2 separate regions of the Homo sapiens genome follow, and region 1 is linked to region 2. The links come from fine-mapping of genetic effects on plasma protein levels. Region 2 holds a variant in brackets. A gene starts in the other region. All regions are shown on their reverse strands.

Evidence for each region. PIP is the chance, under the fine-mapping model, that this variant and not a neighbour inherited with it causes the effect. Protein levels are from antibody-based Olink assays in UK Biobank. Linkage for the fine-mapping came from a reference panel and not from the study's own genotypes, which makes the PIPs less certain.
Region 1: it holds the start of CX3CL1, and the variant in region 2 is fine-mapped to the plasma level of the CX3CL1 protein (UK Biobank, PIP above 0.99).

What each region holds. Positions count from the first base shown.
Region 1 is chr16:57,368,641-57,377,424 of GRCh38, reverse strand. It overlaps CX3CL1 (C-X3-C motif chemokine ligand 1), which reads right to left and starts at 4,935. Exons shown (of 3, transcript NM_002996.6): 1 at 4,787-4,935. The coding sequence starts at 4,856.
Region 2 is chr3:39,260,457-39,269,984 of GRCh38, reverse strand. It overlaps CX3CR1 (C-X3-C motif chemokine receptor 1), which reads left to right. Exons shown (of 2, transcript NM_001337.4): 2 at 3,467-6,489. The coding sequence starts at 3,476. The coding sequence ends at 4,543. Among named protein-coding and RNA genes, the nearest start is that of CX3CR1, 15 kb to the left of the region's middle. The variant C/T (reference allele first, on the strand shown) is at 4,314.

The DNA of each region.
Region 1 (8,784 bases), not on the chromosome of region 2:
GGAGGGGCTCCCCAGGTCACAGGGCTGTCCTTTCTCTCTGAGTAACCAGGATATAAAAGTCACTGTGTGGGCTGGCCACCCTCCTTCTGCAATGGAACCTCAGACTGACTCACCTGCAGCCTCCCCAGGCCCTATTGAGTGGAGCCAGGTGGCAGTCCCCTAAAATGGCCTGCAGGTGTCTTCTTTGGGAAGCCCCAGAAAATACGGTGCCCCTGAGTGACCAGAGACAGGAGGAGGCAAGGGAGGCTGCCCAATGGATAGGAAAGAAGGTCCATTCTGTGCTCCCCAAATCCAAGATGGGAAAAGCCATTGCCCACCTCCAGGGCTTTAAAGAGCCACAGAGTCATCCTGTCTCCAAAGTCCCCACCCTCTGCCACGGTCCCTGAATGGTCCTGGCCCGGCTCAGTTCTTGGTTCTGCCAGGAAGATTGTTTAACTGACCTGGGGAGCCTGTCCCTTCTCAGAGCTGAAATTTTCCTTTCTGTAAATGGAGACAATGCCTCATCCAGCCAGTCATATATTATCTGTCATAGGAGTGTCAGGAAGGCAGGGACCTTGTCTGTCTTGGTATCATAGTTTCCCAGCATCAAGCACAAGGTGGATACTCAATCAATATTCATTGAATGAAATTAGTCTCAGTTTACTTATCTCTCTTTAATGCATCTATCTACCTATCCATCCACCCGTCCACCCACTCTTATCAATCTTCTACCCATTCCTCGCCCACCTGCCACCTCCTGCCCAACCCCTATTCATCTCCATTCATCCATCTACCCACTCCCTCTCCCCTACCTACCACCTGTCAATCTTCCGCCCCCTTTTATCTCACCTACTCATCCATCCCTCATCATCCCCTCCCCATCCCTTCTTCCATCCATCCATCTGTCCATCCATCCACCCATCCATCCATCCATCCATTCATCCATCTATCCACCCATCCATCCATCCATCCATCCATCCATCCATCCATCCATCCATCCATCCACTTCCTGATTCAGCCAACACTGGCTGGAATTACTTTTGAGTATATACAAAAATCTCAGGCCCTCTTATCCTTAACCTTGAGCTCTTTCTCCCATAGGCACTGGTGCTGAGTTTGAAGAGAGTGCTTCCATCCCAATAAATGCCATCAGATCACTCTGTTTATTCAGTCAACCAACAAATGCTGGTTCCTCTTGCCAGGCCCTGTGCTGGGTGCTGTGAGGTACAGTGAGATGAACAAGGAATGCCTCTGGCCTCAGAAGGCTCCCAGCCTGATGGACAGGTAAATTAGGCACACAAAGTATCAGAGGTTTTATTTATTTTTTTTAATTGAACACCTACTGTGTATTGGACCCTGTGTCCAGCATGTACACATCTGCTCTCTTTAATTCCCAACATTCCTGCAAAGGGAGTATTATCCCAACTTTACAGATGCAGAAGCTGGAAATAAGAGAGGCTAAATGTGCCCAGTGCCACACAGCTGCATGGTGGCAGAGCTAGTTTTCTACTCAGCCCCTAAACACCCCACTGTTCTAGGCTACCCTAGATGCCAGGTAGAAACACAGTGTTCCAGAACATACCACAAACATATTGGGGTTTACATGAGGGAGAGACCACTTCCAACTTCAAATGGTCAGGGGAGGCTTCTTGGAGGAATTCTCCTTTAGGCTGGACCTCAAGGACTTCTAAGAGTCTTCCAGGGTCTTAGAAGGAGACTCAGGAAATGTCCTGGGTTGCTGGATGAGGTGATAAAGGGAGGGCTTGAGCCATTGCCCAGCTGTGTGTCCTGAGCAAGTCACTCGGACTCCCTGAGCCTCAGTTTCCTTACTTGTAAAATGGATGTGACAATACCTGCTTCACAGTGTGGTTGTGAGAATAAGAATTTTTTAACTTCTGGAGCATTTTTCCCTTAGGGCAAGGTTTCTCAACAGTGACACTACTGACATTTTGGACCAGACAATTCTTTGTTTTGGGGGCTGTCCCGGGTACTATAGGAGGTTTGGCAGCATCTCTGGCCTCTACACACTAGAGGCGAGTAGCTCAACTGAACCAAAAACATTGGGATATTTGTAACAAGTAAAAAATTTCTCTAGAAATTGCCAAATGGCCCATAGGGGAGCAAAATTACTCACTGAGGACCATTGCTCTAGAGATATCCACATGGCTCCCGCCCTCACCCCGCTCCAAACTGTGCAAAGCCACCTACTCAGTGGGCTTCCCTAACCCCCTATTTAAAATGTCAACACCTCTCTTCTCCCCTCTCTATTTTTCTTTTTCTTTTCTTTTCTTTCTTTTTTTTTTTTTTAAATGGACTCTCACTCTGTCACCCAGGCTGGAGTGCAGTGACACGATCTCGGCTCACTCCAACCTCTGCCTCCCAGGTTCAAGCGATTCTCTTGCCTCAGCCTCCCAAGTAGCTGGGACTACAGGCATGCACCACCACACCCAGCTAATTTTATATTTTTAGTAGAGACAGGGTTTCATGATGTTGGCCAGGCTGGTCTTGAACTCCTGACGTCAGGTGATCTGCCCGCCTTGGCCTCCCAATGTGCTGGGATTACAGGCATGAGCCCCTGCGCCCAGCCACCCCTCTCTATTTTTTTATCACAGTGCCTTTTCTCCTTCCAACAGACCACATTGTTTACTGATTTACTTTGTGTGTTATGTGTCCTCTGCAGTTGAATTACAGCACCTCGAGGGCTGAGGTCCTTGGCTGTTTTATTTATTGATGCCGCCCCAGTACCTAGAACCAGGTTTGTCACACAGTAGGTGTCCAATAACTATTTGTTGAATGAATGGACAAAATGCCTAAGGAAGCGCTTTGTGGCATAATACCTTAACCAACAGAAAAATGGAGGAATTTTTATTTAAATTAGACAGGGGCCTGGATCTGACACTCTTGAATTTATCCTCCCATGCCCTCCCCATCCACCCCCACTGCTAATGAGGCGGGTAGGCTATAGGAGCTTAAAACAGATTCGTTTTTTTTTCTCTTTCTTGCCAGGACTTGAGTGGGAGTGAATGCGTCAGCTCTTGGAGTGGGGGGGCAATGCTCTGCACTGACTCGTAGCTGCAGGTTTGTTATATAAAGTACAGAAGCCTCCTGCCTGACACAGCCCCACAAACCCACATTTGGGGACTGACGCAGCTGCCCCACACTAGTCAGGGCAGCAGCTACGAACCCCCCAGCCTCCTCTCGGGGTCTCTCTGGCTTCCAAACCACCCCCTTGTCCTACAGGGGCTCCCGAGGGCCTCTCAGAGCCATACATGTCAGCGTGGGAGAGGACTTCCAAGGTGAGCCTGGTCAAATGCCTAGTTTTACAGGAGGAGAAAGTGAGGCTGAGAAAGGTTCCAATAATGCCCAGGATCTTCCAGTAAAGCCAATGACCAAGATGAGGGCAGAAGCCTGGTTCTAAAGCCTCAGGCTGCTAGTCTGAGCACCCAGGGTCCCCCAGTGTCCCCTTTCCATCCTAGCCTAGGACCCTTCCCTCTCTCAGCTTAGTAAAAGTAATCCTCCTCCTCCGCCCTCTTCAAAACACCTCCATAGGCATTGGAACCTCGTCACCCTCCCCCAATCCACCGGAGAGGTAATAGCTATATTTAAAGATGCAGCAACTGGGACCAGAGGAGGCAAGACCCTGCTCACGGTCACATAACAGGACTGTGGCAAAGCAGCCGCCATCTGACTCCCTGCTTTCCAGATCTCACTGTCCGCAGACACCTCAGGCTTCAGGGCCCCAGCCCAGACAGCAGGAAGCCAGCAGGAATTTGCCTCCACCACTCTCACGTGCCCACCCACCCACACACCTGCTCCCTGCCCCAGGGTGAGTTTGCTCCATGGAAATATCTGGACAGTGGGGACTACTTCTCATTCTCCCAGACTTGCTGTGTGCCCACCTTCTCTGAAGGTCACCCTGCCAGATGGTGGGGGCACTCCCTGAGGAGGGGGCTGGCTAGCGGTTCATGGAGGTGATGTGGCCCACAGAGGTGGTGAGTGTGCATCTGTGCTCTCTCCTGCATTCAGTCCCATGTGTCTTACCTTCTCCTGCCCTACTTGCTGGCTGTGCATTGTCAGGCCAGTTTCTAAACCTCTCTGGGCCTCCATCTTATCCATATCAGGTAGGATGGTTAATTATGTACCCCTACCAGGTCCTGGGCTTCAGTAAGCAAGTGACTAGAGGCAAAAGCATTTTCTACACTGTGCTTGGAGGAGGAAGACAGCATGACGGGTAGACACAGGCAGAGCAACTGGGGCTATAGACTAGCACAGCAGTGGCAAGCCCCAACCATGAGCTGCAGTGACCTTGACCTTCACTGGTCCTGGGCCCCCTAATCCTGGGGGCTTTGAAAACAGGACAGGAGAAAGTCCCAACTGTGGCCTGGCCCAGGGCCAGGGCTGCGGGTTACACATTAACGCTTGATGGAAAGAGCCAGCCACTGTCAGCCAGGGCCTCCCACCCCAGTGCCCAGCAGGAGCTTCTGCAGGCTCTCTCCACCCCCGCCCTCCTGGCACACCCACACCTGGCTCCCTTATGCCACCCACACCACCTCTCTGTGCTTCCAGGCACAGCCACTTTGCTCGCTGGGCCAGGCAGGGCGGTCGCTGGCAACTGGAAATCTGTCCAGCGCTGCATCTGGGGGAAGCGAGGTGCCCAGCCCCCTCTCGCACATCCCTGGGGAAGCGGCTGCCACCGGCCTTGAGCTTTACCCAGGCAGGGTCTGGGGCCCCTGATGTCAGGCTTGAGGGATAGACAAGGGGCTGGGGGCTCCCTACCCTGTTTGTGCCCAAGTCAAGCCCCACTTACCAGCCAGCAGGACAGTCAGATGGCAGAAGGTGGCCAAGCGGAGCAGCCACGACAGAGATATCGGAGCCATGGCTGAGGGTGGGCAAGAGTCCCGGCGGGGGCCAGGCAGGCGGCTAGAGCCAGGCGGCAGAGCTCAGTGCTGTCCCCTTGCCGCCGCCAGAGATCTGTGGCTTTTTATAATGGGGTTGGCTGCCTCCGCCTCCAGCCCCCGCAGGCAGGAGGGTGGGAGGGGAGAGGAAGGGAGCCAGTGTGCAGCCGCTGGATTCCTCAGGATGTTGCCAAGGAACCAAGCCGGCTTTGTGTCCCTGGGCTTCTCACCATCCTAGGCTTGTCATACTGGGACCTTCCCCGGGAGGCTGGACTGGGCCTGCCTGGGTACAAAGGCCTCCTCTCCTGCCACAAGCTGGGAACATGCCCTAGGATCTGGCCTGGGGCCCTTGATCCTAAGTGGGCAACACACAAAAGGCCAGCAGGCCGTGGAATAGAGAGCGGGGCGCCAAGGGGCCGGGAGAGACTCAGGGCCCCTCCATCCTGGGTCTGACAAGCTCTTCTTTGATCCAGAGAATGCCTCGCCCACATCAGGATGGACCCCTAAATTTCCCCTCTTAGAATCCCAAGCTCCTGGGGGACCTTGTTGATCTATGCATCTCCAGAGCCCAGCAGGGAGCCTGAAGTCAGCAGGGGCTTGGTGCAGGGTCTGCTGAAAGAAGGATTGAGTCCAACTTCATATGGATAGATGGGGAAACTGAGGCCCGGAGCCACCCCAGGTTATCCACAGCATCAGAGTGGAGAACTCCCCTCCCACCACCATGATGAGCAGAATGTGGACAGCTCAGGACCCAGGAGAGAGCCCTGGCCTCCCTGCCTCCACCTCCCGGTCTCCCGCTCCCTGCTTTGCACCCACTCCCACCTCTGCTCTGGCCCCTGTTAGCCCAAAGAACAAGGTGGCTGCCAACCCATCCCCGATAACTCTGTGGCTCTTGGCTCCTCAACTCTGTAGCCGTGGCTTGGATAAGGCTTGCCTCTCGTGGGGCCTGAGTTCTCTATCTGCCCAAAGAGAGCATTGGGCTAGTGCAATGGGGAGAGGGCTTCCCAGCACCGGCCCTCCAACAGGCTCTCACCGAAGGGTGCAGAGGCTTGCCAGCCTTGGGAGCACATTAGAACACAGTCTGCCTTCATGGCAGCCTTCCCTAAAGGCAGTGGCAACAATCCCTGAGACTCCAGAAGAGTCAGCAGCTCTGCCTTGGTATAGGACTGAGCTGTACTGGTGTCTCCAGGCTGCCAATCTGAGGGAAACCAGTTGTGGAGCCAGCATCCCACGCTATGAGCCAGTTGGGCTGGGCAGAGGGGCCACAGATCCCAAGGCCAGGGACCTCTCTCTCCTCAACCACCCCCCCCCGCCCCCCCACCCAACCCAATGGGCTGCCTGGTGCATGGGGTTAGGGGTTAGGAGGCTAGATACTTCTTGAAGTAGCGGAACACCCTTGGCAGGAGCCAAGGTCCACTCATGCTCAGAGAATCTGTCCTGGCCTGTGCACATGGGAAGCTAGTAGCCTTCTCATTCCCAATGTCCAATCCCTCTTTTTATAACTGGTGAAACTGAGGCCCAGAGAGGGACAAGGAGGGATAAAAACTGAGGTCGTGTTCTTTCTGCTCTGTTCATGTAAGAACAGAGGAGGAGGCCGAGTGCGATGGCTCACGCCTGTAATCCCAGCACTTTGGGAGGCTGAGGTGGGTGGATCACCTGAGGTCAGGAGTTCGAGGCCAGCCTGGCCAACACGGTGAAACCTCGTCTCTACTAAAAATACAAAAATTAGCTGGGTGTGGTGCACACCTGTAATCCCAGCTACTTGGGAGGCTGAGGCAGGAGAATCGCTTGAACCTGGGAGGCAGAGGGTTGCAGTGAGCCAAGATCACGCCACTGCACTCTAGCCTGGGTGACAGAGTGAGACTCTGTCTAAAAAAAAAAAAAAAAAAAGACATTTTCTTAGGTTCACCAGCCAGGAAATGAGGGATCCTGGATTCGTCCCAGCCAGCTGGCTCTGAGGTCTGAGCTCAAGACCAGTAGGGTCCACCACCTGCCTCCACCCTCACTGCGAGGACCAATGTGAAGACTAAGTGAGTTTATGTCCATAGGGTACGGGACAGAGCCTGGCATAAAATAGAAGCGAAAATGCAAAGCACGGCTCTGCTTTTCCTCATTTGACCCTTTGGACACCCTCTACCCTCCCCAGGTCCAGCTTCTACTCCCATAAAATGGGAATGATCACCCCCATCTATCTCATTAGGATGTTAAGAACTGAATTTAGATTTAATTTGGACACAATAACCAGGCTTTCAGGCTAGCCAGACCCAAGGCTAAACAGGACTCCAGGCCGGATGTGGTGGCTCACACCTGTAATCCCAGCACTTTGGGAGGCCGAGGCAGGAGGCAGAGGCAGATTCCCGGGAATCTGAGACCAGCCTGGCAAAACCCCCTCTCTACAAACATGGTGAAACCCCCTCCCTACAAAAAATATACGAAAATTAGTGTGGTGGCCTGTGCCTGCAGTCCCAGCTGCTCAGGAGGCTAAAGTGGAAGGATCAAGTGAGCCTGGGGAGGTTGAGGCTGCATTGAGCCATGATCATGCCACTGCACTCCAGCTTGGGCACAGAGTGGGACCCTATCTGAAAAAAAATAAATAAATACATCAGCAGGACTCCACCACGGATAAGGGGTGTTCCCTTGGGCAAGTGACTTAACCTCTCTCTGCATTTCAGCTTCCCTATATGTAAAATGGGATGCAAACAGCCACCTCATCAAGCCACCACGACAGTGAATAAAACTAAGGACTTTCACAGTGCCTGGCACGCAGGAGGCATTAGTATCTGTTATTGAGCCCGGTGTGTGCCAGGCAATGTGGTGGGATGGGGGACACAAAGGCAAGTGAGCTGAAGTCCTTGCCCCCAGGAGCTGTAGCTCAGTAGGAGAGAGAAGTTGCCAGCCCTACCAGAGGGCTAGAGGCTGTGGGCTCGGGCAGGAAGGGAGAACTGCATGCTTGTTGGGGAAACAAGAAAGGTGGGTGAGAGAGATGATCTTTCCATCTGAAGATGGGCAGAATTTTGCTTTGTCTCTTTAAAATTTCTGTTTTGGAAAATATTCAACAATACAAAAGAAAGAATCGTACAAAGACTTTCAAATCTCCACCAATGGCTGGGCGCAGTGGCTCACGCCTATAATCCCAGCACTTTGGGAGGCCGAGGTGGGTGGATCACCAGAGCTCAGGAGTTGGAGACCAGCCTGGCCAACATGGTGAAACCCCGTCTCTACTAAAAATACAAAAAATTAGCTGAGTGTGGTGGCGGGTGCCTGTAATCTCAGCTACTTGGGAGGCTGGGAGAGAATTGCTTGAACTCGGGAGGCAGAGGTTGCGGTGAGCCGAGATTGCACCACTGCACTCCAGCCTGGGCAACAAGAGAGAAACTCTGCCTCAAACAAACAAACAAACAAACAAACAAAACCTCTACCACCAATGATTAGCATTTTTTAATATTTGTTTTATCTTTTTTATTTTTATTTTTTAGCCAAACCATTACAAAGTAAATTATAGATGCTTGACACTTTTCCCCTAAATATTCCAGCATGCATCTCCTTAGAATAAAGCTATTGTCTTACATACATGTAATATCATTATCCCATCTAACAAAATTAACAATAATTCCTGTATGTCATCTAACACCCAGTTCATACCCAAATTTCTCCAATTGTCCCCAAAATGTATTTTGTGGTTTCTCCTCTCTCCCTCTTTCCTTCTTCCTGCCTCCTTTCTTCTCTCCCTCACTCCCTTTCTTTTTTATTTTATTCATTTATTTTTATTTTATTTTATTTTATTTTATTTTTTGAGACGGAATCTCGCTCTGTCACCCAGGCTGGAGTGCAGTGGCGCCGTCCCGGCTCACTGCAAGCTCTGCCTCCTGGGTTCACGCCATTCTCCTGCCTCAGCCTCCCAAATATAGCT
Region 2 (9,528 bases):
TGCAAAATGGAAATGTGAACATGAAGATCAAAAATGTCCCTCAATGACCAGTGCTGTTCCTCAGAGTCACGTGGGAACTCATAGAAAGCGATATTGGTACTGCTCTTTCCTCTGTAGCATGGTCCAGATGGCTCATAGCAGGGACCATGATATGCTGGGTGAGCACCCACTGCATGCACCCACTGTGCCAGCACTGAGAGACTCCTGTGGGAGCCACAGCAATTCTAGGGTCTTCACTGGGGACTCTGAGACAGCAGGGAGCTAGGATGAGGGCTGCAGAGTGTTCGTCTGCCCTCACTGAGCAGACCCCCTGGATGGCAGGGAGCAGTCCCAAGCCAGATGGATGCCCATAACCAGCCATTTGGCTCTCAATACATAATATCACCACGTATCAGGCAAAACCATCCTGCCCAGAGCATTATCTGAATTTGCATCCCATCTGCAGAAGATACATTCACCCACTTCTTCCATTCTGTCTTAATCAAAGTCTTTATGTGAATTTTCCCCATTGAGAAGACAAGCCCCTTCCTGGCTTAGACTGTACCTGACTGATCTTTTCATGAGCTCCTTGCCAAGCCAGACCACCCCCAGCTTATATGGAGACTTGGTGCAAATTAGAGATGCCCCTGTGCACGTGGCAGCCCTGAGCCCAAGCACCCAGTAAGGCAAAGGGCCTGATTTGGGACCCCTCTGCCACTCCACCAGGCAATCAGTTGCTTATTTCTAACTTTCCCTTCCTTCTCCACATTTGTCCCATTCCTTCCTCTCATCATGAATATCCCCAGAGGCATTCAGCAGTGCAGTGAATTAAATATAGAACTTTTTTTTTTCAGAATTGCAGAACGGATTAGATCAATATTAATCCAAACAGAGCAATGAGCCTGACAGTTTAGTAAAAGCTCAATAAAGGGTGGCTTACCTCCCCCAAAATAATCTGAAAAGAAAGCATGTCTTATTTCAGGGGGAAAAAAAAATAAAGTGACCTTTAAAGACCAAATTCCCAGGATACCCAGGGTGGAGGTGGAACATGGGAGTCCACAGGCAGCCTGGATGTTTCCAAAGATCCAAAGGGCTTTTGCTTCCTCACATAATGCAGGAAACAAATTGAACATGTATTAAGTGCTTGCTGTATGTGACACACTGTGCCAGGTGCTCCCCTTAAAACAGTTCTGTGGGCAGGCATGAGAATGAATCCCGATCTTACAGACAAGGAATGTTAGGCTCAGAGGTTTCAAGCTCACCCATCACTCAGCCAGAGAGGACAGATGCAGGATTCAATCTCGGGAGTGCCCGAGTCCACAGAAGTTCCTGTGCTGAAGGACCGACCACAGGCACATAAAGAGATGCGAGACAATTTTTACTGGATTTGGCCACCTCTCGAGGTCGGCTTTGCCAGCTCTTCTCACTGGGGGAAGGGGAGGGAGAAAGTAGCTAGCTCCAGGGTCCCTAACATAGAACCACCAAGGACTTGACTATTTTTACTCATACAGCAGCTTGTCTGGGAAGATCATGCTCTGTGACAAGCTGCAGGCACTAAGTAGCAATTTCTGTTTCCCACATATTAGCTTGAGTCATATAAAACTGACATGGATGTGGCTCAAAAATAGCTGTATGTCAGCCATTTTATACCATTTGACTTAAATGTTATTAATTAACGTCACAGCCAGAGATTATTCTCTGAGAAAAGGGCATTGTAGCCTGAAGCAGAGAAAGCATACACGTTCCCTGGGGTTGAGAACTCATCACAGCCTGAGACAGCTTAGGTTGTAAAGCCCCGGCCCACTTATCCCAGGAGAGTCTGGGTGAGATGCAGGCCCCAAAGCAGAGGCTGGGAAGCGAGAAGTGACACACCCTGGCTGGGTGGGCCCTCATCTTGGTGAGACACCACCTGGGTAAAACCATCATGGAAAGGGTGTAGTGGGGCGTGGAAACTCCCTCGGTTAAAGCGTGAGCTTTGCTGTAAGTTGTGGTAAGGAGGGAGGCAGTGACAACCAGGAGGCCTGTTTTGAGGGTTTCTGAGGGACCCATCTGTGGTATCACGAGGAGACGCCCAGAGGAGCCGTGTGAAAGGGCTGCCTCCCAGCCGGCTCTGGAGTGAATGAGCAGCAAGTCCTGGCTGCGAAAAGAAGGGGAGTGCAGCCTGCAGAAGTGTCTTCTTTTTTCAATTCCTGCTCAGAAGGAAACAGGAGATAAGAATAGTGGGGAAGTCCAAACCAAAGTGAACTATAGGGCTGGTAATCGTAGGGGGAATTAGTCACCCGGAGACTAGCCCAGCAGACTAACGGAGCCCCATCCTCCATCTTGAATCAGTCAGCCCCTCTATGACTGCAGAGTCCTGAATGATGGCAACACCTTCTCTTCACTTAGCGTTGTAGGATGACCAACAGTCCTGATTTGCCTGGGACTGAGGGGTTCCCAATAGATGGGACTTTCAGGGCTAAAACCAGGAAAGTCCTGGGCAGCCCAAAACAAGGTAGTCACTCTAGAGTGTATGACTCTGTCTGATACCTGCTAAGAAAGAGAAGGACTTGTTGATTATAAGGAGAAGAGGAGGTGAAATGGTTCTCAAAAAACAAAGATGAGGGCTTCCGGGTGCTGTTCTGCCCAAGGCTCTGGGTCTGAGGCTTCTCTCTCCAGGCCTAGCTTCATGGAAAAGTAAGGGGCCAGAGGGTGGAAAAGGTGGAAACAAAGGAAGAGGATGGAGAATTGCTTTGGGGAAGTTTGGACTGGAAGTGTGAATTACAGCTGCACCCCCAATTCACCCCATCTCACCCCCCTCCCCCTCCTGCTCATGGTTCTCCCTTTCTCATCCACACATTGGTCAAACTAGCTAGCTTTTGGAGAGATTTTGGGCAGTAAAAGTAAAACAGATCTGTCTCAAGCTTCAAAAAGCCTAGAGCTGGCTGGGCGCTGTGGCTCACGCCTGTAATCCTAGCATTTTGGGAGGCTGAGGCGGAAGGATAATCTGAGGTCAGGAGTTTGAGACCAGCCTGGCTAACATGATGAAACCCCATCTCTACTAAAAATACAAAAATTAGCCAGGCGTGGTAGTGCACGCCTATAATCCCAGCTATTTGGGAGGCTGAGGCAGGAGAATCGCTTGAACCCCAGGGGACAGAGGTTGCAGTGAGCTGAGATCGCACCACTGCACTCCAGCCTGGGTGACACAGCGAGACTCCATTTAAAAAAAAAAAAATGCCTAGAGCCAAATGCTCACAGAGCCATTTACTGCATGGCTTTGGGCAAGTCAAAGGAGTCCGCCTCTCCTGTCAGAAGAGTCTGTTGCAGTCTTCATCACAAGACTGTTGTGGGGATTAAACAAGATGGCAAGTGGGAAGTTGGGAAATGTAGTGTGCACCCAACCAATATTTGTTTCTTCCTGCCTGCCTACATATGAGGCCACACAGAATTCCAACTTTGTTTCTCTGATAACTAACACAGTTACTTGTTTTTCTTTCTGATCCAGGCCTTCACCATGGATCAGTTCCCTGAATCAGTGACAGAAAACTTTGAGTACGATGATTTGGCTGAGGCCTGTTATATTGGGGACATCGTGGTCTTTGGGACTGTGTTCCTGTCCATATTCTACTCCGTCATCTTTGCCATTGGCCTGGTGGGAAATTTGTTGGTAGTGTTTGCCCTCACCAACAGCAAGAAGCCCAAGAGTGTCACCGACATTTACCTCCTGAACCTGGCCTTGTCTGATCTGCTGTTTGTAGCCACTTTGCCCTTCTGGACTCACTATTTGATAAATGAAAAGGGCCTCCACAATGCCATGTGCAAATTCACTACCGCCTTCTTCTTCATCGGCTTTTTTGGAAGCATATTCTTCATCACCGTCATCAGCATTGATAGGTACCTGGCCATCGTCCTGGCCGCCAACTCCATGAACAACCGGACCGTGCAGCATGGCGTCACCATCAGCCTAGGCGTCTGGGCAGCAGCCATTTTGGTGGCAGCACCCCAGTTCATGTTCACAAAGCAGAAAGAAAATGAATGCCTTGGTGACTACCCCGAGGTCCTCCAGGAAATCTGGCCCGTGCTCCGCAATGTGGAAACAAATTTTCTTGGCTTCCTACTCCCCCTGCTCATTATGAGTTATTGCTACTTCAGAATCATCCAGACGCTGTTTTCCTGCAAGAACCACAAGAAAGCCAAAGCCATTAAACTGATCCTTCTGGTGGTCATCGTGTTTTTCCTCTTCTGGACACCCTACAACGTTATGATTTTCCTGGAGACGCTTAAGCTCTATGACTTCTTTCCCAGTTGTGACATGAGGAAGGATCTGAGGCTGGCCCTCAGTGTGACTGAGA[C/T]GGTTGCATTTAGCCATTGTTGCCTGAATCCTCTCATCTATGCATTTGCTGGGGAGAAGTTCAGAAGATACCTTTACCACCTGTATGGGAAATGCCTGGCTGTCCTGTGTGGGCGCTCAGTCCACGTTGATTTCTCCTCATCTGAATCACAAAGGAGCAGGCATGGAAGTGTTCTGAGCAGCAATTTTACTTACCACACGAGTGATGGAGATGCATTGCTCCTTCTCTGAAGGGAATCCCAAAGCCTTGTGTCTACAGAGAACCTGGAGTTCCTGAACCTGATGCTGACTAGTGAGGAAAGATTTTTGTTGTTATTTCTTACAGGCACAAAATGATGGACCCAATGCACACAAAACAACCCTAGAGTGTTGTTGAGAATTGTGCTCAAAATTTGAAGAATGAACAAATTGAACTCTTTGAATGACAAAGAGTAGACATTTCTCTTACTGCAAATGTCATCAGAACTTTTTGGTTTGCAGATGACAAAAATTCAACTCAGACTAGTTTAGTTAAATGAGGGTGGTGAATATTGTTCATATTGTGGCACAAGCAAAAGGGTGTCTGAGCCCTCAAAGTGAGGGGAAACCAGGGCCTGAGCCAAGCTAGAATTCCCTCTCTCTGACTCTCAAATCTTTTAGTCATTATAGATCCCCCAGACTTTACATGACACAGCTTTATCACCAGAGAGGGACTGACACCCATGTTTCTCTGGCCCCAAGGGCAAAATTCCCAGGGAAGTGCTCTGATAGGCCAAGTTTGTATCAGGTGCCCATCCCTGGAAGGTGCTGTTATCCATGGGGAAGGGATATATAAGATGGAAGCTTCCAGTCCAATCTCATGGAGAAGCAGAAATACATATTTCCAAGAAGTTGGATGGGTGGGTACTATTCTGATTACACAAAACAAATGCCACACATCACCCTTACCATGTGCCTGATCCAGCCTCTCCCCTGATTACACCAGCCTCGTCTTCATTAAGCCCTCTTCCATCATGTCCCCAAACCTGCAAGGGCTCCCCACTGCCTACTGCATCGAGTCAAAACTCAAATGCTTGGCTTCTCATACGTCCACCATGGGGTCCTACCAATAGATTCCCCATTGCCTCCTCCTTCCCAAAGGACTCCACCCATCCTATCAGCCTGTCTCTTCCATATGACCTCATGCATCTCCACCTGCTCCCAGGCCAGTAAGGGAAATAGAAAAACCCTGCCCCCAAATAAGAAGGGATGGATTCCAACCCCAACTCCAGTAGCTTGGGACAAATCAAGCTTCAGTTTCCTGGTCTGTAGAAGAGGGATAAGGTACCTTTCACATAGAGATCATCCTTTCCAGCATGAGGAACTAGCCACCAACTCTTGCAGGTCTCAACCCTTTTGTCTGCCTCTTAGACTTCTGCTTTCCACACCTGGCACTGCTGTGCTGTGCCCAAGTTGTGGTGCTGACAAAGCTTGGAAGAGCCTGCAGGTGCTGCTGCGTGGCATAGCCCAGACACAGAAGAGGCTGGTTCTTACGATGGCACCCAGTGAGCACTCCCAAGTCTACAGAGTGATAGCCTTCCGTAACCCAACTCTCCTGGACTGCCTTGAATATCCCCTCCCAGTCACCTTGTGGCAAGCCCCTGCCCATCTGGGAAAATACCCCATCATTCATGCTACTGCCAACCTGGGGAGCCAGGGCTATGGGAGCAGCTTTTTTTTCCCCCCTAGAAACGTTTGGAACAATCTAAAAGTTTAAAGCTCGAAAACAATTGTAATAATGCTAAAGAAAAAGTCATCCAATCTAACCACATCAATATTGTCATTCCTGTATTCACCCGTCCAGACCTTGTTCACACTCTCACATGTTTAGAGTTGCAATCGTAATGTACAGATGGTTTTATAATCTGATTTGTTTTCCTCTTAACGTTAGACCACAAATAGTGCTCGCTTTCTATGTAGTTTGGTAATTATCATTTTAGAAGACTCTACCAGACTGTGTATTCATTGAAGTCAGATGTGGTAACTGTTAAATTGCTGTGTATCTGATAGCTCTTTGGCAGTCTATATGTTTGTATAATGAATGAGAGAATAAGTCATGTTCCTTCAAGATCATGTACCCCAATTTACTTGCCATTACTCAATTGATAAACATTTAACTTGTTTCCAATGTTTAGCAAATACATATTTTATAGAACTTCCATCTGTGTAATCTTCTTTCTCCTATTCAATTATTTCCTGTGGTTAAATTCATTGCCATGGGGAAAACTGAGTCAAAGGGCATGGGAACACATTATCTTTGCATACACACATATGAAAGTCATATATTACACAACCTTTACTGAGTCGTATTATATACAAAACATGAACGCAGATCCAGAGCTATTCCAAAGGCAATGAGACCAAGCCTCTTCCCTCAATAATTTAAATGCAGAAGAGAAGTGAAGGAATAATCACGCTTTGCATTAGGTGGTAGCAGAGGAGTACTACGTGACTTCTGACCTGCGTCTTTAAGGGACAGGGGTTCTCCAGGTAAAGAAAGAGGTGGCATTCCAGGCTGAGGAAACAGCATGTATAAAGGAAGTGTGTGAGAGCCACAATGTGAGAAAACTCTGTGCGAATATTAAAAGGCGTTAGAAGCGGAGTGGGTGGTAGGAACTTTCTGAGCTGAGCTGTTAGCTGTGGGCTGAGCTAAAACAACCAATGGAGGGGGTGCTGGTTCTCCTCAGGGTGTTTACGGGGTTTCTTCGTTATTACCTGATCCTCATTCCAACTGTTGAACCATAAGACTTTTAATTAAAGTTTAACCTATTCCTGGACTTCTAAGAAGGAGGAAATAATTATTTTGGCTTGAGAAATAAAAGAAGAGAAATAAACACTTTCATTTCTAGAAGAAAATTAAATTTGTAACATTAGGAACCTATATTTATTCATTCATTTTGCTGAATAGGACAGAATAGGGAGAAAATAAGGAAGCTCATTGAAAAATCCAAAATAGCAAGGATGTTGGTGTCTAAATAAAGGAAGGCATTTTTGGAAAGGACAGCTGGCCCTCAGAGCACACCTGAATCAGACCCACTCCTGCTTCTGAGGTCTGGGCTTCCCAAGAGCAGAGGGATCTGCCTGTGATGAATCCCGACATATTAACTCTCTGCTTCGGCAGGTTGCTTAACATCTCTGAGGCTCAATCTCCTCATCAGAAAAATAAAGATAAAAGTAGTTCCCACCTGGTAGGGTTGGAGCAGAGGATTCAGTAAGATTACCCCTGCAAAGATCACAGTGCAGAACTGGCAAAGCAAGCTCGAGTGAATGGTGGTGATTATTTTTATACTTATTATTTTTAATATTAGACTGAGCTTTCCCCAGCAACTAAACACATGCTATCTTGTACTTGCCTTTTGCTTTTCTTAGTAGCAGAATCACAGACTCTTGGGTGGTTGGAGATAACTGGGTCCAAATCCACATTTCGTGGGTAAGAAAATGGAGGCTCAGAGAGGGCCAGCAGGTGCCCCAAGATGCCACAGTGAATTACTGGGAGAGGTAGATCCTTGATTCACAGTCTACCATCTCCTTCCTCATCTTGATAAAAATACAGATCAATCTGACCTCTAAGAGCAGAGAACACAGAAGGAAGGTCTGCAGGCAGATAATGAGGCAGGGAAAAGCAGCCCACAAGATAGCTGAAGAGTTTAACAGAATCAATCTGCACATGGACAGGTGTGTGCTGTGTGGCACAGCCTTTGGCAATTGCCTTTTGGAGACATCTGTATCTGCAATGATAGATGGTGTCAACTGAGACTCATCAGCAAAGGCTGCAGAATTCCCAGAGGCAAATGCTATCAGTGGCTTCCAAGAGGATCTGGGTGGGTGGGTCAAGACTTAGACAGACAGGCCACTGTGGAGGGACAGCCACACCCAGGGGCTGCCCAGTGCTTGGGTAAAATGCTGAATCCCTTCCACATAATTCCACTCACTTCATGCTTATTCTATGGTCATTTAATGACATTCTAAGAGAATGTCTCCTTCCCAGGGACCTTGCCATCAAGAAAGATGGAGCATATAGGCTTTCGGTTACTAAGAAGAGCTATCAACCCTTGTAATCCATTGCACCTAGAGTGTGTACAGGGTCTCATGGTTTTTCCATTCACCTCTCTCTGAGATGCTGTCCCTGAGCATCCAGGGAGAGAGTTCACCCAACAACTACACCTGGGAGCATAAGAGCCTGATTGAGAGGTCCACCTTGGGTAGTACCCGGGCCCAAGATGATGCCCATTTGTGCCTTCAAAATTGGAGCAGTTTGTCCTAACTCAGCAGCTAATTTTTTCTCCACCTGCACCGTACTCACTGGCCCATGGGGACCACTTCAGTTTCAACATGATTTGTAATATTGTTTGCTTAACTTGCTGAGTTGGCAACAAAATTTTGGGCTACTCAAAAGTAGTGTGATCTGAGAGCAAGTGAGAAAAGCGAGTCTTAGCAAATTTAGAAATATCCAGTTTCTCTTCAATATACTCTTCATCCACAGGAGGGCCAAGGGCCAAGTCGTTTTCTGAGGGATGTGTGGCATCGTGCTTCTATTTCCGTTACATTACAGCAGTTGTTAGGCAACAGGGAGTGTTCCTCCAGACACACCCGGGGCAGCGCTGGCAACCGCAAAACATGCTCAGCAGGAAGATTACTCTTTTACTCCATATTTCCTTATTTACTGAGATAGAAACAAAAATAACATTTTAATTTGCATTTCTTTGAATACTAGGTAAGATTGTTCATTTTTCAAGGCGTTTGTTTTAAATTATTTGTACATTTTTCTGATTCTAAAAGAAAGATACTCAGTATAGAAAACATGAAAAATATACAATTTAAAATTAAAAATGTTTAATTACACAATATTCAACCTCCCAGAGATAACTGTGGTTTAACACTGAAGTTATTTTCTGCTATGACCATATTTTAAAAAAAATACATAAGAATAGACATTTTTCAAAAGAAGACACACGAATGGCCAACAGGTAAGTGGAAAAATGTTCAACATTTCTAATTATTAGGAAAATGCAAATTAAAATCACAATGAGATATATCTCAGATTTGTCAGAATGGCTTTTATCAAAAAGACAAAAGATAATAAATGTCAGCAAGAACGTGGCAGAAGGGGAACTGTTGTGAACTGTTGGTAGAAATATGAATTAGTACAACCATTATGGACAACATTTTAGAGGTGTCTCCAAAACTAAAAATAGAAT